Regions from separate parts of the Homo sapiens genome. Here region 2 is linked to region 1. Evidence: fine-mapped expression QTL. A gene starts in region 1. The other region holds a variant in brackets. All regions are shown on one strand. Distances are between the middles of the regions.

Evidence for each region. PIP is the estimated chance that this variant, and not a neighbour inherited with it, causes the effect. A credible set is the group of variants that fine-mapping cannot tell apart.
Region 2: its variant is the best candidate, but not a certain one, in a credible set for the expression of LINC00327 in aorta (GTEx, PIP 0.76).

The regions. Positions count from the first base shown.
Region 1 is chr13:23,461,102-23,476,316 of GRCh38, reverse strand. LINC00327 (long intergenic non-protein coding RNA 327) reads right to left here and starts at 6,805. Exons shown (of 3, transcript NR_038995.1): 1 at 6,126-6,805; 2 at 5,627-5,803. RefSeq lists enhancers at 9,475-9,634, 14,944-15,113 and a silencer at 9,745-10,024.
Region 2 is chr13:23,417,262-23,432,476 of GRCh38, reverse strand. All of the region lies in intron 1 of SACS (sacsin molecular chaperone), which reads left to right. It overlaps SACS-AS1 (SACS antisense RNA 1), which reads right to left and starts at 13,506. Exons shown (of 2, transcript NR_103450.1): 1 at 13,176-13,506; 2 at 3,608-5,510. The variant A/G (reference allele first, on the strand shown) is at 4,812.

The sequences.
Region 1 (15,215 bases):
CATGTTGGCCAGGCTAGTCTCAAACTCTGGACCTCAGGATCTGCCCGCCTCAGCTTCCCAAAGTGCTAGGATTACAGGCATGAGCCACCGCACCTGGCCAGCTAATTGACTTTTGACAGGGGTGTGAAGATCATTCAATGAGAGAAAATAATCTTTTCTACAAATGGGTGGAGCAACTGAATATCCAAAGGTAAAAGAATAAATTTGGACCCCTAGCTCACACCATGTTAAAATATTTTAAAAATGGATAGTGTAGTGCCTGCTACTCTGGAGGCTGAGGTGGGAAAATCATTTGAGCCGAGGAGTTTGAGGTTGCCGTGAGCTGTAATTGCACTGCTATACTCCAGCCTGGGCAACAGAGCAAGACCCTGTATCTTGAAAGAAACAACAAAACACACATTTTAAAAAACCACTAAATTTAAAAAGAGCCCAAAGTATAAGACTCTTATATGAAAATGTGTGTAAATCTTCATCATTTAGGCATTAGTTTCCTAGATATGATCCCAAATGCCTAAGTAAACAAAGACAAAAATAGACAAATTGGATTTCATCAGCATCACAGCATCACAGTGCATTAAAGGACACTATCAAGAGACTGTCCTAAAGAAAAGAAAACCCACAGAATGAAATAAAATACCTGCAAACCATGTATCTCATAAGCATCTAGTATCTAGAATATATGAATGAAGCTCTCTGACAACTCAACAGTAAAAAACTCCATTAAAAAAGTGAGCAAATGATTCGAACAGACATTTCTCCAAAGAAGGCATACAAATGGCAACCAGGTATTTGAAAAGGTGCTCAACATCATTGATCATCAGAGAAATGCAAATCAAAACTACAATGAGATATCATTTCAGACACACTAGAATGACTATAATAATAATTTTTAAAAGGGAAATAATATTGGCAAGGATGTGGAAAAATTGGAACTCTAATAAATTGCTGGTGGGTATATAAAATGGTACAACCACTGTGGAAAACAGCTGGTTCCTAAAAAAGTTAAACATACAGTTCTCATATATAACCCAGCAATTCAATTCCTAGGGATATAGCCAAGAAAATGAAAATGTATGTTCACACAAAAGCTTACATTTTAATGTTCACAGTAGCATTATTCATAATAGCCAAAAAGTGGAAACAACTCAATTGTCCACTAACAGATGAATGAATAAATAAATTGTGGTCTATCCACACAAAGAAATACTATTCAGCCACAAAAAGGAATGAATTACTGACACATACAACAATGTGGATGAACCTTGAAAACACTATGCTGAGTAAAAGACGTCAGACAAAAAAGGCTACATGTTGTAGCCTTTTATTCCGTTTATATGAAATGTTCAGAATGGGCAAAACTATAAAGAAACAGAATAGATTAGGAAGTGTTCAGGGCTGATGGCCGGGAGACTGGGCAATGGCTGCCCAAGAGTATGAGATCTCCATTTGGGGTGATGAAAACATCCTGGAATTAGATAGTGCTTTTGGTTGCACAAATTGTGAATATGATACACTGAGAACCACTGAATTGTGCACTTTAATTTTTTTTTTTTTTGAGATGGAGGTTCTCTCGTGTTGCTCAGGCTGAAATGCAGTGGCACAATCTCAGGTCACTGCAACCTCCACCTCCCGGGTTCAAGCGATTCTCCTGCCTCAGCCTCCCAAATAGCTGAGATTACAGGCATGCACCACCTGCCCAGCTAATTCTGTATTTTTAGTAGAGACGGAGTTTCACCATGTTGGTCAGCCTGGTCTCAAACTTCTGACTTCAAGTGATCCACCCGCCTCGGCCTCCCAAAGTGCTAGGATTACAGGCGAGAGCCACTGTGCCCTGCCAATTGTTTGTACACTTTAAAATGATAATTTTATGATACGTAAATTGTATCTTAAAAAACAAGGGAAAAAATACGTAGAAACAGTTTAGACATGCATTATCTTCTGTGAATAGCATTGTCAACAATCCAACATAAATTAATTAAAAAACAAGAATCAGGCTCATTTTTTACAATAAAAGCTTTTGATATTTTTATACATGCTGTTTATTCAAAACTTATAGGTTTTCTATATGGGAAATTACAATTCCTTTCATAACCTTTTGTTTAGTTTCAATGGTAGAATGACACAAATATTTTAATGTAAAAATGATTGGCTACTTTAATTGCCTATACACACACTTTCAATAAGTATGTACCATTTTTGTAATTCTTGTCTTTTTTTCTATTTTAAATTTGTTCTGATAACATTGATTGAAATATAATATTTTGTCTAGGGGCCGGGCACGGTGGCTCATGCCTGTAATCCCAGCACTTTGGGAGGCTGAGGCGGGCAGATCACGAGGTCAGGAGATTGAGACCATCCTGGCTAACACGGTGAAACCCTGTCTCTACTAAAAATACAAAAAATTAGCCGGGCTTGGTGGAGGGCGCCTGTAGTCCCAGCTATTCAGGAGGCTGAGGCAGGAGAATGGCATGAATCTGGGAGGCAGAGCCTGCAGTGAGCTGAGATGGTGCCACTGCGCTCCAGCCTGGGTGACAGAACGAGACTCCATCTCAAAAAAAAAAAAAAGAAATATAATCTTTTGTCTCTTGAGTCTGGTAATAAAACATTTGGGCTTGTATTTTGTGTGCCTTTGCTTTTTAAATTTTATTTTTCTAGTAATTTATTTCTACTATATTTTAAAAAGTAACCTTCTGCAATGGATTTGAAATTTTAACACAAAAGCTGGTCCTTCACCACAGATGCTTTGCGAAGCACTTGTGTGGGGCACCTGGATGTGGACGGAGTACTCTGTAATAAATTATCTACAACAGAAGATTTACATCTTCCTAGGTAAATGTGTGAAATTCCTTCATTCTTTATCTTTTGTAACAGTGACAATGTTGACCTTCCAGATGCTCTGGAAGGGTGGGAAAGGGAGGGGTGACTGGCAGGGCTGTGACATAGTGGTGTACATATTCCATCATTCCCTTTGCTTCGCTCCTTCTCTTTCAGGTCTCCAATAGAGGAGGCTGGCTCCTTCTTACAGAGCCTCCAACAACGATTATATTCTGGGCTTCAGCATCCTTCGCTTGCCTGTACATTAGCTTTCTTATTTTATTTTATTTTATTTTATTTTATTTTATTTTATTTTTGAGACAGAGTATTGCTCTGTCATCCAGGCCGGAGTACAGTGGCGCGATCTCGACTCACTGCAACCTCCGCCTCCTGGGTTCAAGCAATTCTCCTGCCTCGGCCCCCCGAGTAGCTGGGACTACAGGCACACCCCATCACGCCCGGCTAATTTTTGTATTTTTAGTAGAGATGGGGTTTTACCACATTGGTCAGGCTGGTCTCGAACTCCTAACCTCAGGCGATCAACCCACCTTGGCCTCCCAAAGTGCTGGGATTATAGGCGTGAGCCACTGCGCCAAGCTTGTACATCAGCTTTTTGTCCTCTGGAAATGTGTTGAAATTTCTTGTCTACTGATACCCTTCCATGCTTTTTTTGTTGCATGAGTTTATTCCTCTTTGTATTTCTACGTTGTCATTTCATTGGGGTCTCAGGAGGGACACGAGGTAAACACATATGTTCAGTATGTCATCCTGAACTAGAATAGCCAGGTTTTGGTTATGGAAAATAATAATGCTGAATGTTTTTTGTCTAAGCATACATTTTCATTTCTCTGTGTAGATATTTAGAAGTGGATGTATTTAACTTACTGAGTCACTGACAAACTGTTTTCCAAAGCGACTGTATCTTTTCTACATTCTCACCAGCAATGTATAAGGATTCCAGTTCCTCTAAATCTTTACCAGAATTCAATATTTTCAGTTTTTCTGATTAGAGACATTCTAGTATGTGTGTCATAGTATCTCAGTATGGTTTTAGTTCGCATTTCTTTAAGCACTGATAATGTTGAGCAACTTTTCATATGCTTATCTGCTATCATAATATATTCTTTGGTGAATTATCTGTTCATATCTTTTGCTCAACATTTTGAATTGTCTTTTTTTAATGGAGTGATAAGAGTTCTCTATTCTGATGCAAGTCCTTTTTCAGACACATGATTTGCAAATATTTAGTCTTAGCTTGAGACTAAACTTCGCATTTTCTTTTTTCTTTTTTTTTTTGGAGACGGAGTCTCGCTCTGTTGCCCAGGCATTACAATAATAAATTTCCCAATATTAAACCATTCTTCAATTCCTAAAGTAAATTCTATTTAGCCTACTCTTTTAATATGTGGTTAAAATATTTTTATAATATTTTGTGATTTTACACCTATATTCATAAAAAGATCATAGCTTCGCGTCTTTTTAAAGGTTTTTATCTTTTGTTATTAAGATTGTTCTTGCTTCATAAAATGAACTCAATAATTGTCTTTGTTTTTTCTCTATGTTTTAGTACAGCCTGAATAGCCTATGAATGATGTATTATCACAGAATTTAAAGACATTTACTTCTAAAGCCCCTTAAGTCTAAAATCATGGTTCTCAAATCTAATTGCATATTAAAATCACCTGGAGAGCTTTAAAAACTCTCAATGCACAGGCCACACCCCTGATAAAAGAATTCAGAATCTCGGATGTAAGGATTTTTAAATGCAAAATAAAATGAAAGGCTCAATAGTTTATAAAGTTTGTGCTAGATCTAATCTTTTCTGGTTTTGTCTGTAATTGGTCCAATAGTAAATATTGATTCATCTGTAATTGTTCTGACATCAACTAATGGTGTCCATAGCAATAGCACTACAAGCCAGTTTCTCTGCCTTTATCTCGCTTTAATTGTACACAAAACTAATAAGGCAAAGCACGTAATATAATAACTATTTTAAAAGCAAATGAAACAAACTTTGGAAGGTTAAGTGGCAAAGCCGCTTGACTCCCATCACTTTGGCATTTCAATCAATAATAGAGTCTAAAGACCAAACAATAAAACAATGGTTAACATAGAAAAAAAGAAATACGAGTTCATTAACTAACCAGGAGATCTTATTTCCAAAGAGTAAATCTGATTACATTGTTCCTGTTTAAAACCCTTCAATGGCTTCCTTATGCCTAAAAGGAAAAAAAAAATCCAAATTCCTTTGTGTGGCATAAGAGGTTCTTTGTGTAACACAAGATCTGGCCCCTCATCACCTCTCCAGTCGTATTTCTCAAAAGACCTCTCTTGCTTCCTATACTCAGTCATGCAAAATGTTCTGCAATTCTCTGAATGCCCTGGCTTTTCTTTTCCTTTTTGTGCCCATGTCTGTGCCCAAGTTATTTGCTTTTTCTGAAAGATCTATCTTTCAAAACCTTCTTTTCCCTCCCTCCCTCCAACCCTGTTGACCAACTTATCTTTTAAAGTCTGATTCAGTTTCAGGGCCATCTCCTCCGAGACCTTCCTTCCTGACTGCTTCTCGAGTTCCCCTATAAAACAGTGACTGCCCAAAGAGCAGCAACAGTTTGTAAATCATTCCATTCATGCTGCCTAGAACAAAGCTGCAGTTGTGTTTAGTAAAGGTTTATCAAATGGATGAAGACTGGTCACTATTAGTCTTGACCCCTTCTATTTGAAATATGTGAAATACACAAAGTAAAATATAATTTCTGATAGGGGCTGATATCAGGAACTGTAGGAGATCTGTCCATTGAACCCAAGGTCTTACCTATTAAATCTCTACTGTTGCCAGTCTGCGCTCCTGGATTTTCAAGGGGCTCCGTGGAATTGGGAGGCTGATGAAGCTGGTGACCACCCTCCGTAAGCATGCTGTGTTGGTGATTCCAGTGCTTACTCCTTTCCTCAAATGTGGTCATAAGAAGTCAGGAAAGTCAATATGCTTTCACTAGGAAAAAAGGAGGAAAGCCTGCTTTAGTTGGTTGTTACATTTTTGATGAGGCGAAAATTCAAACAAAACTGTAACCACAAGGACCATTAATTGTTCTTTCCTGCTAATAACCATAGTTAGCCAATTGGATTGTGAGTGTGTGGCATGCTTGTATTGTGTATGTGAGTAGGGAATGCACGTGCGTTAAAGTTCACATGTGCTTAAGAGCTTAGACACACCCGCAATTTGCAAGACAGCTTCATGTCCTGATGTGGCCAAAGCTGTGTAAGAAGCCTGAGCTGTAATTACTCCGCACAAATTTACATCCTGGGGTACTCACATCATCCTGTGGTCTGTATGCTCTGTGGCTACACACCTGGCTGAGAACAGAATTAATGATGAGAAACGTGCCTGCTTCTCTGCATAAAAGATGATGTCTGAGTAGAAGGTCGCCAAGGGAGGATTAAGAGCAAGAATGCGAGAATGTGCTCAGGAATCCGTGCGTGAGATGATGAGCTTGTGAGCTGATGTTGATTCTGTGCAGTTCCCAGTGTCTTATTCACAGGCAAGATTTTCTTGCTCATCGTTCAGCCTTCAATGTTTTAAGCAAAGATTTTTAAAAAGATCTAACAGGAAACGAGGAGCTGCAGTGAAGCTTGGGCAGTCAGTTCGAATCTGAATAAATATTTGTCAGATTGGAGAAGCGCTGAAAGCATTAAGATACTTGGAGATTTCTCTTTTTCTTTGGCAAGAAGCATGACTGAGACAGGTAAGGGCTAGGAATTCTTCCGGATCACTCCCTCCAACAATGGTCTTTCCTTTGAATTTGCACTTTGGAGTCTGACACAGATTAGTGCTTCCTAGTCCTCTAACTGTAACACATGCCTCAGTTTCCCTTCTCCGATAAGATTGCAATATCTTTGGGTGCAGGAAAAAAAATAGTTGATCCTTTTCTTTGTAGCCCAGCAAGTTCCAGGCACATTAGAAACTGATTAGAAACTGGTACACAAGTGTTACTTGCTTAATTTATTATAAATGCTTTAAAAATGAGGCAATGACTATCATTGAAAAATAAAACCAAACTGTGAAGAACTTCTCTCTTCCTGTTAGTGGAGACTTTCCACAGAATTTTTTTTTTTTTTTGGGAGGCAGTGGACATGTTGAGTTTTCAATTGAATATTTTGCTGCAAACAACTTAGGAGGAGAGGAAAAAAGAAAACGCAAAGCCAAACAAAGCTGGTATTTTTCAAGTGCTCATTAATTTCAAAACCACGGTGTCTTTCATTGATTTTTTACCATTAAAAAGGACAGCAATGCCCATCTGCTCAAAATTCCATCCAGAAATGAAATTATGAATTAAAGCTGTGTTACACATGCACAATTGAGACATCCTCTGTTTGGGCCTGCCAGATGACACACTGAAACAGCCTGGGGTCTGCACTTGGGGTGCTGCCAAGGAAGCAGATACACGGCTGATGAAAATCATCCATCATTTCAAATCAGAGGTGCCATATTCCTGCAGACTCCTGTTATGAACAATCTCATTTGATCTTACATTGGAACAAGCTGTCTTCAACACTCAGGCCTGGCCCCAGGCACAACGAGGCAGATGGAATAGGAATCTCTCATTCCATGCCTGCATTTGCCGGAATTCTAGGATTTTGTCAGAAGTTTTCTTGTGTGAACCTAGCCTGACAGGATTAACTTCACTGAGTTGTGCTTCAATATCAGTTCTTACCTCCTTCAATTTGTGCCAAAACTCTCATGGAGGACAGTGTTCATCATTTTTTCACTTAAAACCATATATATGAGTCATTATATAGAGCGATTCTTTTTAGATTCAGTTTCCGGGAAAAAAATTAAAAAGTCACATGATCTTTCTGTCTGCTAATGATATTATGCACGTTGCTCTTGTCTCTATTTTTGCCTTGGCCTCCAGGAAGCTCACAGCCACGTTTTACACTCAAATACAGAAATAATATTACCATATGCTAGTATTACCGTATTTGTGATACTCTTTTCTGTTGATCCTTAGTTTCCATTTCCATTCTTCTTTTATTAAGCCTAACACGTTTTTTGTTGTAAGCTATATCAAAATCATTTTGGAGAAAGGCCAGGCTTATATAAATGATAAAGCATAACCATCTTTTATTTCCCAGCCAAGTGGTTTGTGTTTTAGAGTATATACTTTTAGAAGAAACAGATTGTTTCTTTAAACAGATGAAAATCAAATATCTTCCTTCTTCATGAAGTTAACCACGGTTAGATCATCCACATTGATACAGATGCCTGATAAAAGATCAGGATTGCGTTTGACAACCAGGTTTCTCTTACACATTCTCAGCAGCTTTCAGTCTCTGAAGTTTTTAGTCTTCTTTATTTACTACATTAATCTTGAGAGTAAACAAGGTTCTTATCAAAAATTAATATTTTAATATTAAAAGAATTTATTAGAAAATAATTTATTTAATCTTTTAATATTTAAAAGATATTAAATAAGTTTACAAAGACAACAGCAACTAAGAATGACCATGACTGAATAGAGCAAAACTGTACTAAAATACAACAAATAAAATAAAGGAATATATCCGTGAAATGTTAAGAAAGGCACTGGCCCAAATAATCAGTACTGAGACTCCATCTTGGGTTTGCTTTAAAGCCTCTAGCATGAAGCTGATGGCTGCCCAGTCATCTCAAGGGGCAGCACTGTCCCTTAGGAGCTTACAGTTGAAGCCGACTAGGCAACCCCTAGCCTTGGGCAGAGCTGAAACTCAGCACTTACACACAGGACTGATGTTATAACTCGGAACACAGACTCCTCAGTTTCCTTTGATGCTTTTTTTCTGAGGGCCACTCACATCCGTCTTCTGTCTTCTTTCATGATCCTATCTTAACAATCATGTAAACTCAATCCTTTATCAGACACTCAACAGAAGCAGACTTTGTCAATTACTGGTGGAGAGAGTGTCCTAAAGAAGCTATCCATGAAAACAAGGGTGACCCGGCAGGCTTCACGAAGCCTTCACGAAGCCAGAGGGCAGGGGACATCCACCCTCACTCAGGACACCCTTGGGGCACTCTGTGCATCACCCCGCACAGCTGCTACTAATTAAGCCCTTCTGGGCACCATGTGTTTCCGTGACCTGCTCTTCCTGTGTCTTGTACTCATAATTTTTTCCCATCACATCACATGATCCTGCAGTTTCGGGACAATGCTGACTTCCTCTGCCATCCTCCGCAGCACACAGTGGGGCTCCTGCCACCCCGGGCCTTCTTGTGTCCTAGCTGAGCTGTGGACGGCCCTGCTCTCCCACCGGATCCTCCTGGGTCATGGAAGGATTCTTTGGAGACATGATCAGCTTCCTTACCCACCACCTGTGTGCCTTGGGCAACTGGAGTTCTCAAGCTCCAAGGCCTTCGTTTTCTCAGCTGCAAAATGAAGAGACTGGAACAGCCTCCTGTTTTGAAGAATCCCACCTGAGTTTATATCAGAACAATCTGAGATAGATATATAGATATAGATATATATCTTTTTACATTTTTTAAATGTTCTTTCCCCCAAAACCATGTCCTTTAAGTGGAGGAATCTATTTTTTAAAAATGATGTGGTTGTGCCCTCCAGTGGTTGAGCGTGAAGTCATCAGGCTGTTCGGGTGACAGCAGGGCTCGCAGGAAAGCGCAGGCCGTGCTAAACCGCCGAAGGACGAAGGTGGGTCTAAAGATAGATGAATCTGCTACTCCGGAAAGCACCGAATCGCCGTGTAGACCGGTCACCAAGTATAACTGCGAGCCCCAAGGCGTCACCAGCATGGGCATCCCAGCCTCGGTGCTTCAAGTCCTACTTCTGCTTGGCTATCGGGAAAGGCACGGCTTCGGGGCCACTTCTAGGCTCTCAACACGCGGCCGCTGCTGGGAATCCTGGCGGCCGCGGCTCTTCGCTCTCCAGTGGACCCAGTACTCCGAGAAGCCGCAGAGGCCTGGCCGCTGCAGCCTGCTCCCGACACCCGCTGGTCCGCCCCTCCCGCTCGGCTGCAGGGCTGGGGCGCCCACAGGCGGCAGCCGTCAGCCCGCGCCCGGAGGAAGCCCACGGCCGCCCCGGCTCCCCGCCCGCAGACGCAGCTGCGCAGCCTAGCGGGCTGGGTAGCGGGACAGCAGCGCACGCTGCCCGCTTCCGCTCGCTCCCCCGCGGGCCCTGCTCGATCGTCAGGGTTGCTGCAGGCGGAACTGGAGGAATAAACGCAAAGCCCCAGCCCCTCGTGAATTTCAGGGCCCCTCTCACGTGCAGGGTGTTCCCGCTTATTTCCAGACTCCTTGGATGCAAAACAATGAGTGAAGAACTGACAGTGAAGGCGGAGGGACTTACCTAAGTTATGCAATGATAAATAAATGGCAGATGAAAAATGGGACCTTTGGTTTCTAGTCAAAGTCCTTAGGAAGCGATTCGGCAGACGCAGGCCCAGGTGGCGAGGAGAATGGCCCCTTAGCCAGCTTTTAGGGTTCCGTGAGGGCTGAGCTAGGAGGGAGAGAAAAGGTTAAAGACCCTTCCGGTCCTTAGCATCACCACGAATGAACGTTTACCGAGCACTTACTTTATAAAGAGCACTGTGATAGATGCTGGGGAATATTCAGAGGAATAAATAGGACAATCTCATTTTCCAGGTCTACATTCACTGGAAGGGTCCCCTCCTGCAGGAACTCATTACTGGTCAACCACTGTGCCCTGTATGAAATCTACATGCTGTAGATTTCAGACATGTTTTCTGCCTCCGAGAGATTTATATGCTAGCAAACAAAAAAAGACATATATATAAGGAGATAAATAATAGCCAAGATATTTTTTGAAAAGTATTTGGGGTAAAAATACACATAAAAACATTTACCATCTTAATCATTTGTATGTGTCCTCTTCAGCAGTGTTAAGAACATCCACACCATTGTGCAGCCACACTCCAGAACACTTTTCATCTTGTAAAACTGAAACTCCACAGTCATTAAACAACATTTTCCCATTCCCCTTCCCCTAGCTCCTGAAAAACCACCATTCTACAGATGCTCCTTGACTTATGATGGGGTTAGGTCCAGATAAACCCACAGAAAGTTGACAATGCATTCCATGCCCCTAACCTACTGAACATCACAGCTTAGCCCAGCCTACCTTAAACGTGCTCAGAACACTCACAGTAGCCTACAGTTGGGCAAAATCACCTAACATAAGGCTTATTTTCCAATAAAGTACAAAATATCCCACGTAATGTATTAAATACTGTACTAAAAGTGAGAAGCTCTAATAGTAAGTGCTCAGTAAATGCTCAGAATGGTTCTATGGTGTATTAGTGTGTTCTCACACTGCTGATACAGACATATGGGAGATTGGGTAATTTATAAAGGAAAGAGGTTTAATTGACTCACAGTTCCACATGGCTGAGGAGGCCTCACAATCATGGCAGAAGGCAAAGGAGGAGCAAAGTCACATCTTACATGGCGGCAGGCAGGCAAGGCAGGCAGGCAAGACAGAGCTTGTGCAGGCAAACTCCCATTTATAAAACCATCAGATATCATGAGACTTATTCACTATCATGAGAACAGTATGGTGGAAACTGCCCCCATGACTCAGTTATCTCCACCCTTGACATGTGGGGATTATTACAATTCAAGGTGAGAATTCAAACCATATCATATGGGTACTCAAAGTACAGTTGCTACTGAATGCATACTGATTTTTCACCACTGTAAAGTAAAAAAACCATAAGTCAAGCCATCTTACGTTAAAAATGGTTTGTACTTTGTCTCTATGAATTAGACTATTTTAGGTACCTCATATAAGTGGGATCCTACAGTATTCGTCCTTTTCTGTCTGGCTCATTTAACTTACCATCTTCAAGTTTCACTCATGTTGTAGCACGTGTCAGAAGTTCCTTTCTTTTTAAGGCAGAATAATATTCCATTGTCTGTTTATAGCGCATTTGTGTATCCATTCATCCATCGATGGACACTCGGGCTGCCTCCACCTTTTGGCTGTTGTGAATAATGCTGCAGTGAACATGAGTGTGAAAGCAAACATTTTCAATATTAGTTGGAGTGTCTGCTTTCATTTCTTCTGGGTATACATCCAGAAGACTCTATGGTAATTCTATGTTTATTTTTTTGAGGAACCACCACACTGTTTTCCCTAGTGGCTGTACACTTTTGCATTCCTACCAACAGTACACAAGGGATCCCAAGACATCATTTTCAACCTTAAAAAAAAAAAAAAAGCGGTTTCAGGTTCACAGAAAAGCTTCACAAAGAGTACAAAGAACACCCATATTCCCCAGTTGTTAGTATTTTACCACATTTGCTTCATCAGCTTTTGTCTTTATTTACAGACATATTCATTTTTGGCTACGATGCCCATCATCCCTAAATACTATTGTGTGGATCTCCCTAAAGCGAGGGCACTCTCCTATGTAACTACCACACAGCCCTCCCAACCAGGGCGTTGACGTCAATTCTGCATCATCTGGGCCTCAGACCCCATTCACATTTCACTGACTGTCCCAAAAATGTATTTCCTTTTTTTCCTTTTTGGTCCAAGATCAGAATCATGTGTTGCACTGAGCCGTCACATCTCATCAGTTTCCTTCCATTTGGAACAGTTTCTCAGTCTTTCCCTCTTTCATGTTTGTATTGGTTTGTTCTGGCTGCCATAGCAAAGCACCACAGCCTGGGTGACTTAAAGAACAGAAATGTATTGTCTCACAGTTCTGAAGACCAGAAATCCAAGTTCTAGATGTCAGCAGGTTTGGTTTCTTCTGAGGCCTCTCTCCTTGGCTTGCAAATGGCCATCTTCTCCATGTGTCTTCCTGTGATCTCCCCTCTGCGTGTGTCTGTTTCCTCATCTCCTCGTCTTAGAAAATCACCAGTTATATCAGATAAGGACCCACATCAATGGCTCGATTTTAATTTTAACTTAATTGCCCCTTTAAAGAGACTATCTCTGAATTATAGTCATATTTTGAGGACTGAGAGTTAAACTTCAACATATAAATTTTTGAGGGGGACATGATTCAGCTCATAACAGTGTTCTCGAGAGTCTTAAAAGGTACAGGCCCTTCAGAGTGTAAAATGACACATACAGAGATAACACTCTGATGTTATCTCACGTCTAGACTCAGTCCACACATCTTGGCAGGACTACCTCAGAAGTTATGCTGTGTTCTTTTCAGGAGCAGGAGCCAACATTTTTCAATTGACCAAGTTGGTGTCTGCCAGTTCCTTCATGATAAAGTCACCATCTTGGACTTTGTATTTGATTAGTGTTTGGGTGGAGAGATTTAATGTCATGTCAGTATCCTGTTCTTTTGTCAAACCTTCACGGGTATCCTTAGCATCCAGTTAGGCTTTTGAAGTTAAGAGAGGGGAAGGAAAAGTGGAAAGAGAAGAAAAGGTGGAAAGAATAAAGTTTAAAAAAAATGTTAAGATAGCATTTTAAGGTACTTAACTGGAATGTTTAAAAGGGGAGACCAGTAACCTTCTATTTTCAGTTCCTTGTTTTTCTTGTAGCTTTGCCTAGGATGGCTACAGTAATGCTTACATAAATCAAAAAAATGTGCTCTAAAAGAGAAATTTAACTGAACAAAATCTCATTAGTAATGATAATTCAGCAGATTTTTTTTTTGAGAGTTTACTATGGGCTAAGGTTTCTCTAAGTATCAGTTCTTTTCATTCCAACTGCAATTAGATGAGGTGGCATTATTGTAATTTCTGTCTTACAAGTGAGTAAATCGAAGTATAAACATTCCAGGGTCCTACAGCTAATAAGCCTCCTTGGAGTCTCTGGGTCTAAAGCCTGTGATTGTAATCATTACCTATATTGCTATCTGGGCACAACGCAGCTACTAGTATCTGCAGTGGTAGAGATCTGAGGTCCTACATGCTCCAAAGTTGAGTTCATTTCTACATTTAGTGTCAAAATGACGAAGTGGTTTCCAAAATTGGAAAATGAGTTTCCATTCCCTCTTCTAATTAGAATTTTTAAAATGTTTTCTTTGTTTTGTTTTTCAATTTCCAAATTTTGTTTTTCAGAGGAAGTAATGCCTTATCTTTCATTTCACTTAGCTAGCTCAAGGAGAGGACTGAATTCTTTTTTTGGAATACGCAATGACCTGAATATGCAGTGTAAGAGTCAGTAGCAACAAGTGCAAGTCAGTGAAACAATTAGTTTCATAAACACAAAACATGGCCTGGCCAGCAAGGGAGGGCCTGAGTGCAGTCTTTAGCACGTCCACACACCACAGGGCAAGATGTTGGACCAACCCTATTTTTACCTAAGACCGGGAGGAGAGCAAATATCTCCTGAAACTGGCTAATTTTCCAAGCCAGGAGCTTTATACAGTCTAAACGACCATGTGAAGTTAGCATTTTTACCTTCATTTTGTGACAAGCAAAGTGTGGTTCAGAGAGATTAAGGAGACAACCGTAGGTCAGTGCTGGAGCCCAGATGTGAACCCACATTTGTCTGGCTATCTCCAAATCTCATGTTCTTTTTATTTATATCACACTGACTGCTTTTCGGTGAGTGATATCCCACTAAGAATTGAGACTGATTCTCAACTCCCCCAAAGCCATGTGCCAGGCTCTCCTGGAATGTGGTCAGCATTCGATGGGTGGGAATGAGGTGCCCAGGATTGAAGGTGCTGCTGTCAGGGAGGACCCCAGCTGCACTCACAGCTGTGTGACTTGGGTATGTTCCTCAGGCCATGTGTTCACCATTGTGCTCATCATAAAATAGGGATTATATCATCTGACTCATAGAGTGAAGGGGATTAAATGAGATAGTTCATACCACATGCTTAAGACAGGGCGTTGCAAATAGTAAGTGCTCAATAAAAGTCAGCAATTATTAATTTATTATAACTAACTGGTCTGGTTAGACTGCTGATTGAATTATGAATTTGGAAAGCTGTTCCATGAGGGTTACAGAACAGCCCTATCCTATTCAACGGCTTAAAAGGGACTTGAGTATGTGTATGGCATACATACTCTTTACATTTAGGATGATGGTAGCTTGGATGGTAGGGTCAGATACCCAAAGCCTGGGAATCTGGAGTAGTATGCAGCTAGACTGTGTATAGATGCCTTAAAAAATCCACCATCAACTCAGTGGCTTAAACCAGCACTCATTATTGTCAGCTGATCTCAGCTCTAGGCTGGGGCACTTGAGCTGGGGCACCTGTGCTCCATGTGTCTCTCAGCCTCCTCTCAGGGCACAGCGGCCATCCCAGACACAGCCTTCTCATGGTGATGGCGGAAGCATATGCATCCAAGTCCAGTCATGGAAACACTGTTCAGGGGTGTATGATCTCATAACTCTTAACTTTCCATTGGCCAAAGCAAGTCACATGGCCATGGTGAAGGCTGGAGAATGACACCACCCTGCAGAGTGAGGGCT
Region 2 (15,215 bases), 44 kb after region 1:
ACGATCCCCAGTTTCCTTTCCTCTATCCTCCTTAGCCGTCCCTTTCATCCTTTCTTCTCCTTCCTGGGCTGTTTGGGCAATTTTTTCTTTCTTTTCTCCTTGGATCTTAAAGACTCCTTCAGTCTCCCTTTCAAACAAAGCAAGCCAGATTTTCTACATACCCTATTTTCCTTTAATCTTACTTGGTTTATAAGAACTTTTCCACGATTAAGTGTTTTCTATTCTTCACATAATAGGAAGAAAAGTCCAATTATAGAACTTGAAGACCAAGGTTTGCTTACATCTGAAGCATCTCAAAACCATTGCTTTACGCAGGACTTGCCCCCAGAAGCCCCGGGTTCCAATCTCAGGTCTACCACATCCTTACTCTGCAGCCCCTGACAATCCACATAACTTCTGTGAGCCTCAGTTCCCTCCTGTGTCAGAGATGACACAATTATTCACTTAATGGTCACAGGGTTGAAACCAGGTGATTTGTATGAAGGCGCCTAGCAGGGTTCTTCACACAGTGTCACTATTTAGTAAGAGTTTTGTCGTTTTCTCACTCAGTCCACCATCTACCTAACCACCATGGTGAAGCATGCTAAAGTGGTTCATGCACCATTTCCCAAAAGGAATAAATTTTGAAATGAACTTTTGGCTGAGTGCATCTGAATGAGTCCTGATCAGTACAAAATACATATTCAGTTCTTGCTATGCACGAAACACTGTTCTAAGCCCTCTTGTCTATAAAAGGAACGCTGATGTTTCCATGTTGCCATAGGAGTATTCTTTGGAAGAAGGAAGGCCGATTCTCTTTGTACAACTCTTCCTAAATCCTTTAAGACAGCAGCAGTGATGATGATATTGACCACTCCCACCATGAGCCTACATGAGGACTACTAAATGTGATTGATGCAGAGGATGCCAAATTGGAAGTCAGGACAATTCCCATTGCTATTCTGATCTTGGACAGCCTGGGTGGCAATTTGCTCTTTGCAATGACAATCCTGTTACTATTTTAATTTCTACTTTATGTGTCTTTCTCCTGCCGTCTTTCCTTTCCTTAACTCACACTCAGGATATTGTGTAAGATTTTAACGTCTAGGAGAGGCCGTTTCACCCCTACCTAAGGGGGAACATAGCGAAGTTGGGAAAAGCACTGGATTGGGGACCAAAGGGTGTGGCTCCAGCCCTGCTTTGACTTCTCTTTGTGCTAATTAGAAAGCCTTTTAACGCCATCTCTAAGGCAAGAGACATAGAATAATCTTTCAATTTCCTTCAGGTTCTGACTAGATGATTCAGATAGCTCTCTTTGGGGTAGCCTCAGTTTACAACAATTATTTGATCAAATTAAATGCTTTTATCTCATTGATTCTTACAATAGCCTTATGAAACAGGCAGCCCCATTTTGCAGATTACAAAATGCAACCTTAAGAGAGAGTAGAACCCCAAGTATTTCTTATTAGTAAAAGGAGAGACTGACTAGATGGTAAGACTCGATTCCCTTGGGGAGCATCACTGAGTTCTCAGACTGAACTCTGAGCTCTGTTCCTACCATGGTATCCCCCTCAAGGCACTTCAAATTGACGACGATGTGAAACCCAAGGTGACACGTTGGTTCTGGGTTTTGTCAGGAGAGATCTGTGGTCCAATTATAATAACCTTACATCCAGACAAACATTTGTTTTAAATATTCTGCTCGAGATTACACCATGAGTTTGTCATCTGGGGCAGAAAATAAGGGCTCTACAGTCCACATAGCCTTTTAATGTGTTCTGAAATGACATTTAAAAATAAATCAAAGCCATCCTAATATAATTATTGGTGATCATTTAAATCCTTACCTCATTAAAGTACTAAGTGCTAGAAAGGAGTATTTGAATTCTATACGTATCTAGAATTTGTGCACATTTTCACATAGTACTACTTTAGCCTTTTTCCTTGTTTTTAATGCAATGATAAATTTCACCATTTAAAAACCCTGATAGGATTACAAGATTAAATACAAAAAATATTGCATAAGACATAAACATACTAAAAAATAATTCGTGGTTTATCTGAAACTCAAACTTAAGGTGTATATGTTTATATTTATAATTTTTATTTGCTAAATTTGGCAATATGATATAAACAGAGCTTTACTTGATCAATGATAGTTACTTAGAGCTTAAGGATATTAGTTTGTTAGGTCTTTAAGCTTCAAACATAAATTACAACCAATCTTTATGAGTTTTTTGTCAATTACACCAAATATTCCTTTAGTTTTATTTATTAATTTTTTTTTTTTGAGATGTTGTCTAACTCTGTCACCCAGGCTGGAGGCCAGTGGTGCAATCTCGGCTCACTGCAACCTCCACTTCCCGGGTTCCAGTGATTCTCCTGCCTCAGCCTCTCGAGTGGCTGGGATTACAAGTGACTGCTACCACGTCCGGCTAATTTTTGTATTTTTAGTAGAGACGGAGTTTCACCATGTTGCCCAGGCTGGTCCTGAACTCCTGATCTCCAGTGATCTGCCCACTTCAGCCTCCCAAAGTGCTGGGATTACAGGCGTGAGCCCAGCCAATATTATATTAAATGTTTATGCTAAGTGACCATCCAGAGACAATCCTGATTACAAAGAACAGATCTATGTTCATTTTACTGTCATATTCCTGAGAGTCCCTGCTAAGAATAGTAATAAAAAGTACCCAAGATTTTAATGTATTTGGAGGAAGATATACTGGGTTTTGGAACCTGGCTCCACATCATACTAGTTCTGACACTTAACCTCTTGCAGCCTCAGCTTCCTCCTTCTTAAATGGGATTCATGATAGGTTAAAAATCCCTACCTCGGGCCTGGCACGGTGGCTCACGCCTGTAATCCCAGCACTTTGGGAGGGCCAGGTGGGCAGATCACGAGGTCAGGAGATCGAGACCATCCTGGCTAACACGGTGAAACCCCGTCTCTACTAAAAATACAAAAAAATTAGCCGGGCATGGTGGCGGGCGCCTGTAGTCCCAGTTACTCAGGAGGCTGAGGCAGGAGAATGGCGTGAACCCGGGAGGCGGAGCTTGCAGTGAGCCGATATCGCACCACTGCACTCCAGCCCGGGTGACAGAGCGAGACTCCGTCTCAAAAAAAAAAAAAAAAAAAAAAAAAAAAAAAAAAATCCCTACCTCAACGACTGAATCACAGTTTAGTGAGCCTCTGCCATGGTTGTACATGGTCAATCCTCCCCAAAGAATTAGTTTTTAAAGAAATAATTGAATATTATTTTTCCTTCAAAAAGTCAATATTATTAGATAATATCAATTAAGATATTATGTATTCTGAAATGACACTTAAACATCAAATATATTTTAGTCATATAATCTATTTTTAAAATTTCATTTAGCAGCTTTGAGATATTCACATACCATACAATTCACTCATATGTGATATTATTTTTATGTAAAATTTTATCTTTGAGAATAATTGAGCTTTTGAAGGCAAACCTAAGACTCTGGGAGATTCTATTTCGGTGCCAGCCTTCTAGTCTCCTGCCTCCACAATTAGCTCTGCCAGTTGACAAGCTAGAATCTGAGGCCAGATAAACTACATACAAAATATGTGTAGTTTTATTATCTGTAAATTGGCTAAAGAGACTAAATTATTCACTCTTTATTGAATACTTTCTGTATCCATAAACCTAAGTAGGAGAGTCAAAGGTGAATAAGATATTCTTGAGCAACTTTCAGCAAAGTAGATGAGAAAGATTTGTATGACACAGAAGGGATTTGGAGCACTGGGGGAATAATTTATATATTTTTCTTATTATTGAAATACAGTATTTTTTCTGTTGTACATTTTACATCGAAATCTTTATTACACACACACAAAAGATCAGTAGCACTCTCCTTTACCTTCACCTTTTGTGCTCTAGAAACTATTTTACGTACATATTTAATTTCAGGATTATATTTAAGGTCTGGTACTGGCTGTGGTGACCCCCGACCTTTCCTGCAGCACACTATGCCAACACAGGTCTTTCATTAATGTCATCCAAAATGCTTGCTGTGCCTTACCTTTAAAGGTCTATTGATTTATAGCGTGAATTCATCCGACTTTTCCATTTTGCAAATATTCTATTTTTAAACCAATTTAGTCTTTGCTGACTCATATTTTCTCCTGAAGTTAGGAGAGTGAGATGATTACTTCGCTGATAATTCCCATGGAGGCGTTCTGTGGGCCTGAAGTCTGTCTGCATTTGGCTCCTTGTTTTTGTAATGATAGCGGCTTTCAAGGGTCAGCTTTCACCATATTCCAGAGGATTTGGCCATGTATGAATTTGGTTGAACCAAAAGGATGAATTTTTCATTCCCATCTTCAGATGAACATGGACCCCATTTCTTAGGAGATCACCAAGGGCAATTCTGCCTCTATTCCTTTCTCAAAGAGCGTTTCTAGGGAAACTCAAGCTGTTCTGCCAGGTGCAGCTGCAGAGGCGTGTCTGTGAACACGGCAGCACTGAAAACTATGAAAAGCGAAGGAATCCTTCAGGGAAGAGGGGCTTTACTAGTCCCAAAGACACTCTTAAACAAACAGACAAGACAGCATATCAGAGGAGATAGAGTATTCGTGTGGTTCCTGATTGTATTTTAACCTCATTCCTGCAGGAGAGGCCTTTCTTGTCCCGTCCTCGTCCTCGGGGACCAGCCAGGTGTTGCTGTCCTAGTTTCTGGGAAGCAGCTTTATCCCCCCTTCTCTCCGGTGCAATTCACTTTGTCACCTCAGGAACTTCTTCACTTCCCACACTCTTCTCCTGCCTCCCTCTGCCAAAAGGCTCTACCTCTGCCAAAGGGCGGCGTTT[A/G]GCTCAGGGAACAGCTCCCATTATTTATACAATAGTTATGATTTAAGTCCCCAGTCTCCTGGCTGTTCCTGTTTGAAACTGTGTAACTCAAAGAACTTTTCCCATCAGTGAGTAAGTGCAGCTGGCATGTTTATCTTCCTACTCCTTAAATGAGATCATATGTACAGTAGTGCCAAGTTTTCCTACTGTGGGTCAAGCCCATATGCCAAAATAGGATATTTTTGCTGGGAAGGCCAAGAGGTCACTGCGTGGCACATCTGCTTGCTAGCTGTGGGCAGTGGCTTGAGGTTCCAAGCTGGGGAGGAGGGGAGCCCCTGTCCCTAACAGCTGCTGGACAGCACTGATTGTTTTGACCCCTGAAGCATGAGAGGAGGTCATGAATCAGTGGGCAGAGAGTATCATGAACACATTTCATGTCACTTCATGTGTTAAAAAATATTAGATCAGCAAAAGTAGTAGCATCTAATATTTGCAAAAACCGTCTGCAGTTGACTAAATGCTGTTAGAACACAGCTCAGTTTGGTGTTGCGGTGATACAGTTCATGGATAAGGCAAGCTGGCCCTGTTTAGGGATGAGGAAAGTTGGGCACAGCGAGATTATGCGATTCTCAAGCCATGGTGAGGAGAAGACCGAAGAATGTTCTCTTCCATCAGGTGGTGCTACTCCCCAAATGGTAGGGTAGAAGCAGCGTTCCTCTTCTGAAAAGAAAGAGAAGGAGGAAGAAGGAAATGAGGTTTGAGGGGGTGAAAGGAAAATATCTTAGGCCCCCAAAATCACTAAGGAAAACTCAACCCAGGAACTGCTTAGGGCAAACCTGCCTCCCATTCTATTCAAAGTCACTCCTCTGCTCTCTGAGATAGATGCATATCTGATTTGCCTCCGTTGGAAAGGCTAATCAGAAACTCAGAAGAATGCAACCACTTGTGTATCACCTGTCTGACTCACTTCCAGTCTTCTTGCTTTTGCTTCAAGTTGTCCCCCCTTTCCAGACCAAACCAATGTACTTCTTTTTTTTTTTTTTTTTTGAGACGGAGTCTCACTCTGTCACCCAGGCTGGAGTGCAATGGCATCATCTCAGCTCACTGCAACCTCCACCTCCCGAGTTCAAGCAATTCTTCCATCTCAGCCTCCCGAGTAGCTGGGATTACAGGCACCCACCATCATGCCGGGCTAAATTTTGTATTTTCGTAGAGACGGGGTTTCACCATGTTGGCCAGGCTGGTCTTGAACTCCTGACCTCAGGTGATCTGCCCGCCTTGGCTTCCCAAAGTGCTGGGATTACAGGCGTGGGCCACTGCACCTGGCCTGTACTTCTTACATATACTAACTGATGTCTCATGTCTCCCTGAATGTATAAAACCAAGCTGTGCCCTGACCACCTTGGGCAAATGTCATCAGGACTTCCTGAGGCTGTGTAAGGGGTGCGTCCTCAACCTTGACAAAATAAACTTTATAAATTAACTGAGACCTGTCTCAGATTTTCTGGGCTCACTGAAGTCCTATACTTGTGTCAGGCACTCAGTCGTGGGGAATAAGTAAGAGCTGGGAGCCACCGGGATTTAAACGAAGTATGGGCTGTTGCTGGACTCTTCTGGACACCAGTTTCCTTCTCTGTATAATGAAATTCACAATTCCCTACCAAATCACTAGGCTGTTATGAGACTGAAATAAGATCATCCCTATGAAATCACTTTAACAAATCTAAAATACCATGCCCCTGCAAGGTAATCTTATTGTATTGCATTTTAATTTTACTACCAGTATCATTCCAATTGTATAAAAATTTTGTATATACTAATATTCTCTGCCTTGTCACACAGACCCCCGGCGGCCATGCTCTAGCTCATAGGCACGAGCCCACTCCCGCAGGGAGTCAGGCGGGGTGGAGCTTCGGGGCCCCAAGTCCAGCACCCACCTGAGATCTTCACACCCTGAGCAGAGCAGTCGGGGCAACTTAACTGGGCACCAAGTGGGCAAAAATGGCGCCTTCCCCACCACATGTGCAGAAGGGTGAATTCCTGGATGTTGAGGGGTGGGGGCACAGAAACTCCCTGCCCGCTCTCCCCAGGAAGAGGGCAGGGCCCATGGGGACAAGGATTCCCACCTCTTCCCCACCACCATGGACATAAGGCCTTAGTGGACACCAAGGCCCCAGCACGACATCAGGCCCCAAACGACACTGGACTCTAGGTGGACACTGGACATCAGACACCAGGTTGATGCCAGGCCCTAGTCAAGTGGACTCCAGTCCCTGCATAAACATCAGGTCCCAGTTTGGCACATAGGCCCCAGGTGGACACCAGGCCCCTGGTGGATGCCCAGGTTAATACCAGGCCCCAGGTGGACACAAGGTCCCAGGTACATTCAGGTCCCGGGTGGAAACCAGGCCCCAGATGGACATCGGGCATCTGTATGTCAGGTCCCAGGTGGACACATAGGCCCCAAGTGGATGTCTAGTCCCCAGGTAAATACCAGGGCCAAGGTGAACAGGAGGCCCCAGGTGGACACCCTGACCCCAGAGGACCATCCAGCTCGAGGTGGACGTCAGGCCCCAAGTGGACACCAGTGTCCAGATGGACATCAGGCCCCAGGTAGACACTCGACTTGAGGTGTACACCAAGCACCAGGCTCACGCCCAGGCCCCCGATGGATACAATGAAACAACAGGTTCCATTCAGTGATATAATAAAGCACATCCCAAAGCTCCTTCACCCATATCTTCATGATAATTAACTGAGCTGGATAGTCACATGTTCATATATAGGCCTAATAACCTCAGAAATGTAATTGTTTAGATTCTACAAAACCTGTGTTTGGACTTGTTTAATGGAAACTCAGGTTCCATTCAGTGATTTAAAACAGCACATCACAAAGCTTCTTTGTACATAGCTTGGTTTTCGTTATTAGTACTGGACGTTCATATGTTGATATATAGGCCTGATAGCCCCTGAAATGTCATATCTGAGATTCTACAAAACATGTGTTTGGAACTTGCTTCATGGAAACACAGGTTCCATTCATTTATATAAAACAGCACATCAGAAAGTTTCTCCTCACATAGCTTGTTTTTCATTATTAGGGCTGAAAATCTATGTAGGTACAATAGTCTCTGAAATCTCATTTCCTTTTTTTTTTTTTTGAGACAGAGTTTCCCACTTGTTGCCCAGGCTGGAGGGCAGTGGCGTGATCTCGGCTCGCTGCAACCTCCGCCTCCCGGGTTCAAGTGATTCTCCTGCCTCAGCCTCCCAAGTAGTTGGGATTACAGGCATGCGCCACCATGCCCGGCTAATTTTGTATTTTTAGTAGAGCCGGGGTTTTTCCATGTTAGCCAGGCTGCTCTCGAACTCCCGACCTCAGGTGATCTGCCCGCTTTGGCCTCCCAAAGTTCTGGGATTATAGGCGTGAGCCACCATGCCCGGCCTGAAATCTCCTTTCTTAGATTCTCCAAAACATATGTTTGGAAATTGTATAATGGAGATTCCAGTTGCATTCAGTGATATAATAAAGCACATCAGAAAGCTTCTTCACACATAGCTTGTTTCTAGTTATTAGTAGTGGATATGTGTATATTCATATATAAACCCAATAACCTCTGAAATGTCATTTTTGTAGATTCTACAAAACATGTTTGAAACTTGTTTCATAAAAACACAGGTTCCATTCAGTGATATAAAACAGCACATCACAAAGCTGTTTTTAGTTATTAGGGATGGATACTCGTATATTCATATATAGGATAATATCCTCTGAAATGTCATTGCTTAGGTTCTAAAAAATGAGTGCTTGTAACTTGTTTAACAAAAACACTGGTTCTTCTCATTCATATGAAATAGTACATCCCAAAGCTCAAAGCTTCTTCACACATAGCTTGCTTTTAGTTATTAAGGCTCCGTATTTTTATATATAGGCCTAATAGTTTATATATAGGCCTAATAGCTTCTGAAATCTCATTAATTAGATTCCACAAAATGTGTGTTTGGAACTTGTTTAATGAAAACTCACGTCCCATTCAGCGATATAATAAAGCACATCACAAATGTTCTTTGCACATAGCTGTTTCTAGTTATTAGGGCTGGATATTAGTAGGTTCATATAGAGGCCTAATAATCTCTGCAATGTCATTACTTAGATTCTACAATACGTCCTTTTGGAACTTGTTTAACAGAAATGCTTGTTCCATTCAGTGATATAAAACAGTGCATCCTAAAGCTTCTTCGCACATAGATTGTTTTTTGTTATTAGTGATAGATAGTTGTATATTCATACATAGGCCTAATAGCCTATGGAATGTCATTCCTTAGGTTCTAAAAAATGTGTGTTTGGAACTAGTTTAATAAAAACACAGGTTCCATTCAGTGATGTGAGACAGCACATCACAAAGCTTCTTCACAGATTGTTTCTAGTTATTAGGGATGGATATTCGTATATTCATATATAGACCTAATAGCCTCTGAAATGTCATTCCCTGGGTTCTAAAGAACGTCTGCTTGGAAGTTGTTTAATAAAAACACAGGTTCCATTCATTGATATAAAACAGCAAATCACAAAGCTTCTGCTCACATAGCTTGTTTTTAGTTATTAAGGCTGGATTTTCATATGTTTATATATAGGCCTGATTGCCTCTGAAATCTCATTAAATAGGTTCTACAAAACGTGTTTTTACAACTTGTTTAATGGAAACTCACATTTCATTCAGTGATATAATAAAGCACATCACAAATGTTCTTCGCACATAGCTTTTTTCCAGTTAATAGGTCTGGATATTCATATGTTCATATATAGGCCTAACAATGTCTGAAATGTCATTGGTTAGATTCTACAAAACATGTTTCTAGTATGTGTTTAACAGAAACACAGGTTTCTTTCAGTTATATGAAACACCAAAGGCTGAGGCAGGAGAATGGCGTGAACCCAGGAGGCAGAGCTTGCAGTGAGCCGAGATCGTGCCACTGCACTCCAGCCTGGGCGACAGAGTGAGACTCCGTCTCAAAAAAAAAAAAAAGAAACACCACATCACAAAGCATCTTTGCACACAGACTGTTTTAGTTATTAGAGATGGATATTCAAATATTCACATAAGACCTAATAGCCTCTGGAATGTCATTCCTTAGGTTTTATAAAACGTGTGTTTGGAACTTGTTTAATAAAAACACAGGTTCCATTCATTCAGTGATCTGAAATACCACATAACAAAGCTTCTTCATGCACAGATTGTTTTTAGTTATTAAGGATGAATATTTGTATATTCACATGTGGGCCTAACAGCCTCTGAAATGTCATTCCTTAGGTTGTATAAAACGATAAAATGTGTGTTTGGAACTTCTTTAATAAAAACACAGGTTACATTCAGTGATATAATAAAGCACATCACAAAGCTTCTTCTCACATGGCTTGTTTTTAGTTATTGGGCTGAATTTTCATGTTTATATATAGGCCTCTGAAATCTCATTTGTTAGATTCTATAAAATGTGTTAGGAACTTGTTTAATGAAAAGTTACGTTCCATTCAACAATATAATAAGGTACATCACAAAGCTCCTTTGCACATAACTTTTTTCTAGTTAGTAGCATGTTCATATATAGGCCTAATAACCTCTCAAACGTTGTTACTTAGATACTTAGATAATACACCATAGGTGGACGCCCAGGCCGTAGGTAAATACTAGGCCCCAGGTGGAAACCAGGCCCCAGATGGATATCAGGCATCTCGGTGCATGTCTGTTCCCAAGTTGACACATGGGCCCCCGTTGAACACCAGGCCCCACTTAAACTTCAGGCCTCAAGTGGATGTCCAGGCCCCAGGTAAATACCAGGGCCACAGTGGACAGGAAGCCCCAGGTAGACTACAGGCCCCAGGTGGATGCCTAGGCCCCTGGTGAACACCACGCTCCAGGTAGATACCCTGACCCCAGGGCAACATCCAGTTCCCAGTGGACATCAGGCCGCAGGTGGATGCCCAGTTCCCATGTGGACATCAGTCCCCAGGTCAACATCAGGCCCCAGGTGGACACTGGACTTAAGATGTATATCAGGCACCAGGCTCACATCCGTGCCACAGCAGGACACAATGTCACAGGTGGACAGCCATCCCACAGAGGATACCGAGGACTCAGACGGACGTTCAGGCTCAAGGGGAACATAAGACACTATGTAGGCAACAGGCCTGGGTGCATATCAGACCCCAGGTAAATACTCAGGTTCCAGGAGTACAATAGGCTTGAGGTGGATACCCAGGTCCCTGGTAGATACCCAGTCCCCAGCTGAATGTCAATCCTCATGGGACGGCACACTCCACAGGGAAACTAGGTGCCAAGTAAATGCCTAAACCCCTGGTGAATATCAAGCCCCAGGGGTATACCTAGACCAGAGCTGGACATCTGGCCCCAGCTGGACATCCAGGACCCAGGTGGATATCTACACCTCAGGTTGACATCAGGCCCCTGGAGAACACCAGGTTTCAAATGACCACCAGGCCTCAGGTGGCTATGGAAGCCACAGGTGGATATCAGGTACCACGCTCACACCCAGGGCCCAGGCGGACACAAGGCCCCAGAGGAACAACAGGCCCAAGGTGGACAAAGGCCCTAGGTGCACACCAGGTCCTAGGTGGATACCCACACTTTAGGTGGACACCAGGCCCCAGGCAGACACCAGGTGCCAGGAGGATACCCAGGACTCTGGTGGACATTAGGCTCCTGGTGGACACCAACACCCAAGTGGATGTCAGGCCCCAAGTGGGCACTGAGGCCCCAGGTAAATACCCAGGTCCCTGGTCAAAAACAGGTCCCTGATGGACAATCCGGCCCCAGGTGGACATGAGGCCTCAAGTGGACACTTGACTCCAAATGTCTTGGGTGGACACCACTCCCCAGGTGGATACCTGGGCTCCTGATGAACATCAGGCCTCAGGTTCAATCTAGGTCCCATGTGAACATCCAGGCCCAGGAAGTCCTCAGGCACCGGGAAACACTCAAGCCCCAGGTGGACATCCAGTTCCCGACTGACACCAAGGCCTCAGGTGGACACTAGGCACTAGGAGAACTTCAGGGCCCAGCTGAAATCAAGCCCTGGGTGAATACCCAGGCCCTAGCTAAATACCAGGCCCCAGATTTACATTGGGCCACAGGTGGACATTAGGCCCAAGGTACACACTGGATTCTAGGTAGACTTTAGTCCCCAGATTTACATTGGGCCACAGGTGGACATTAGGCCCAAGGTAGACACTGGATTCTAGGTAGACTTTAGTGCCCAGATTTACATTGGGCCACCGGTGGACATTAGGCCCAAGGTAGACACTGGATTCTAGGTAGACTTTAGTCCCCAGGTTCACAGTCACACCTCAGGAAAATACCAGGCCAGGCCCCAGTTGACTGTCAGACCCCATCTAGACACCAGTCCCCACATAGATAATCTATGCCCCATCTGGACATCAGGTTCCAGGTAAACACCAAGTCCAAGATGAAGAGCAGGCCCCAGTTGGGTATCTAATCCATAGGTGGACATGGGGCACCAGATTGACACACAGGCCCAACGTGGATACCCACACCACAGGTGGACATGAGGCCCCAGGTACATACCCAGTCCCCCGGTGACTATCGGGCCCTAGGTGAACACCAGGTCCCAGATGAACATCAGGACCCAAATGGATACCTAGGTCCCTGGGGAACATCAGGCTCCAGGTGGACACCAAGGACCCATGTGGGCAGCTAGGCCCAGAGTGACATCAGGTTCCATGGGGACACCCAGTCTCCAGGTGGATACTGCGTCCCTAGGGGTACACACCAGTCCTCAGTGACCGAATGGTCACATATTCTCTGGCCAAATGCAATAAAATCACCTCCCCAAAGAATATATATTCTTTAAAACTGAAAACTACATTTCTCAATCATTCTGAAGATAAGGAACTCGCAACAGAATGCTGAACACACACAGAAACGATGAAACTCCCACAACCAACACGAGTGCAATGCTGCTCAACTAGTCCGAGAGCAAGACCCACCACAGGCTTTGCATAGAAGACGCACAGATTCGAATGGAAGAAAATGTGGGACCCGAAATTGCAATATAAGAAAAGAGAAAAAGGCAACCACGCACACCAAGAAATCCAAGAAGTAAAGGGTGACATGGAGACATAACACGCCCGGTTTCCCAAGAAACATTAGGAACCACATTGCGAAATGAAATGGCAGGCCCCATCAAGCCCTGTTGAGACTCTGAACTGCAGGCCTCTCCTAGACGGCCTCTAGGCCTACAAATTGCTAAGGCCACCCTTAACACGTCCTACCCACCTTGTAGAAATTCCCCACCACTAGGAAAAGACACTAAAACCCATGTTGGTCCCGAGCTTACCCTGCCAGAGCTTACCTTGCCGAAGCTTCCCGCAGTCCCTGGGTGCCACTAGCTGGCTCTGTGGCTTCCTTGGAGGGCCTGTGGCCTAGGCCCGGTCCCCTCTCTCAGCTCCCGTGCCTGTCCGCCCATGACCCCAGAGGGACGGGCCCCTGGTTCCCTGGCGGAGCTGCCCTGTCGGCTCACACAGGCGCCGGACGGCCGCGCTCTTGCTCCCAGGCACCAGCCCACTCCCACGGGCAGTCGATTGTGGCACTCTCTGGGGCCCCAAGTCCTGCACCTGCCCCAGATCTTCATGCCCTGAGCAGAGAAGCGAGAACATCTTACTCAGCACCAACTGGGCCAAAATGGCGCCTTCCGCACCACGTGTGCAAGAGGGCAAGTTTCCCGTGGTGGGGGAGGGGGCACAGAAACTCCCCACCTACTCTCCTAGGAAGAGGGCGGCGCCCATGGAGACAAACCCATGGGCACCTTGATAGTCACAAATGCAATGCTAGATCAAAAAATGATATTCTGGTCAGGCACCCTGGCTCAGGTCTCTAACCTCAGCACTTTGGGAGGCTGAGGCAGGGGGATCACTTGAGGTCAGGAGTTTGAGACCACCCTGGCCAACATGGTGAATCCCCTCTCTACTAAAAATACAAAAATTAGCTGGGCTTGGTGGCAGGTGCCTGTAAGCCCAACTACTCAGACAGCTGAGGCAGGCAAATCACTAGAACCCAGGAGGCGGAAGTTGCAGTGAGCAGAGATCAGCCACTGCCCTCCAGCTGGAGAGACAGAGCAAGACTCCATGTAAGGTAAAAAAAAGAAATGGGTGCTATACTGAAGCACTCAAATGTGGAAACATCAGATGAGAATTTATATACAAGGGAAACAAACATATATGTCTAAAAATCTTGTATAATGTTAAGCATATAATTATTAAGGAACAAAAAGCACTTCTGTAGTTGAAAACAGTAAAAATTAAGTTGAACTAAATGTATATTACTATTTCATTACAAGCAGAGATAGTCTTTGTATTATATTTAAATGAAGGTATTATCCATATGAAAGATAAATATAAATTAGAGCCTGTTCCCCAATTTCTGCTTTTCTCTTAGGTTGTTTCTTTTTTTATTTTCAAGAGTTCTTTCTATATTCTGAACACAAAACTTTTGCTGATTGCTGTGTGGCAAATATCTTCTATTTTATATAGCTTGCCTTAGGTGAGCAGAAATTCTTAATTTTAATGTAACTTGAATTTTTTTTTTTTTTTTTTTGAGACAGAATCTTACTCCCAGGCTGGAGTGCAATGATGCAGTCTAAGCTCATTGCAGACTGCCTCCTGGGCTCAAGTGATCCTCCCACCTCAGCCTCCCTAGTAACTGTGACTACAAGTGCGTGCCACCATGCCTGGCTAATTTTTGTATTTTTTGTAGAGATGGGGTTTTGCTGTGTTGCCCAGGTTGGTCTCAAACTCCTGAGCTCAGGGGTTCCGCCTGCCTCAGTGTTCCAAAGTGCTGGGATTACAGGTGTGAGCCACCGCACCCGGCCTTGTAGTTTGATTTTAACAATCCTTTCCTTGAGGGTTACTGCTTTCTATTTGTTTTTAAAGGAATTCTTATTTACCCTGAAGCCATAAAGATATTGTGTTCCACTTCCTTCTAAAATTTTTAAGGTTTGATTTTCTCACTTATGTGCTTAATCATCTAGAATTGATACTTGTGCACAGTATGGGGTTCAGATAAATTTTCGTGCTTGTTTCCATATAGTTAACCACTTGCCCCAGTAACATTTTTGGAATGGCCCAGCTTTCCCCCACTAAACCCTGCTGATACCTCTCTCATGTATCAGGTTCTCATTAATGCAAGGGTCTGTCTCTGAGCCTTTTACTCTCTTTGATTGTTCCCATGCGAATGCCACATAATTATTATGGTTTCATGTTAAAGCTTAATATCTTCTAGAGCAAGTCTTCCCTCTTCTTCTTAAGTAGTGTCTTTGGTTATTGTGTTTTTATTCTGCAAGGTTGCTGGGGTTTTGATTCAAATTGCTTTGAATTACAAGATCAATTTGAGGAGA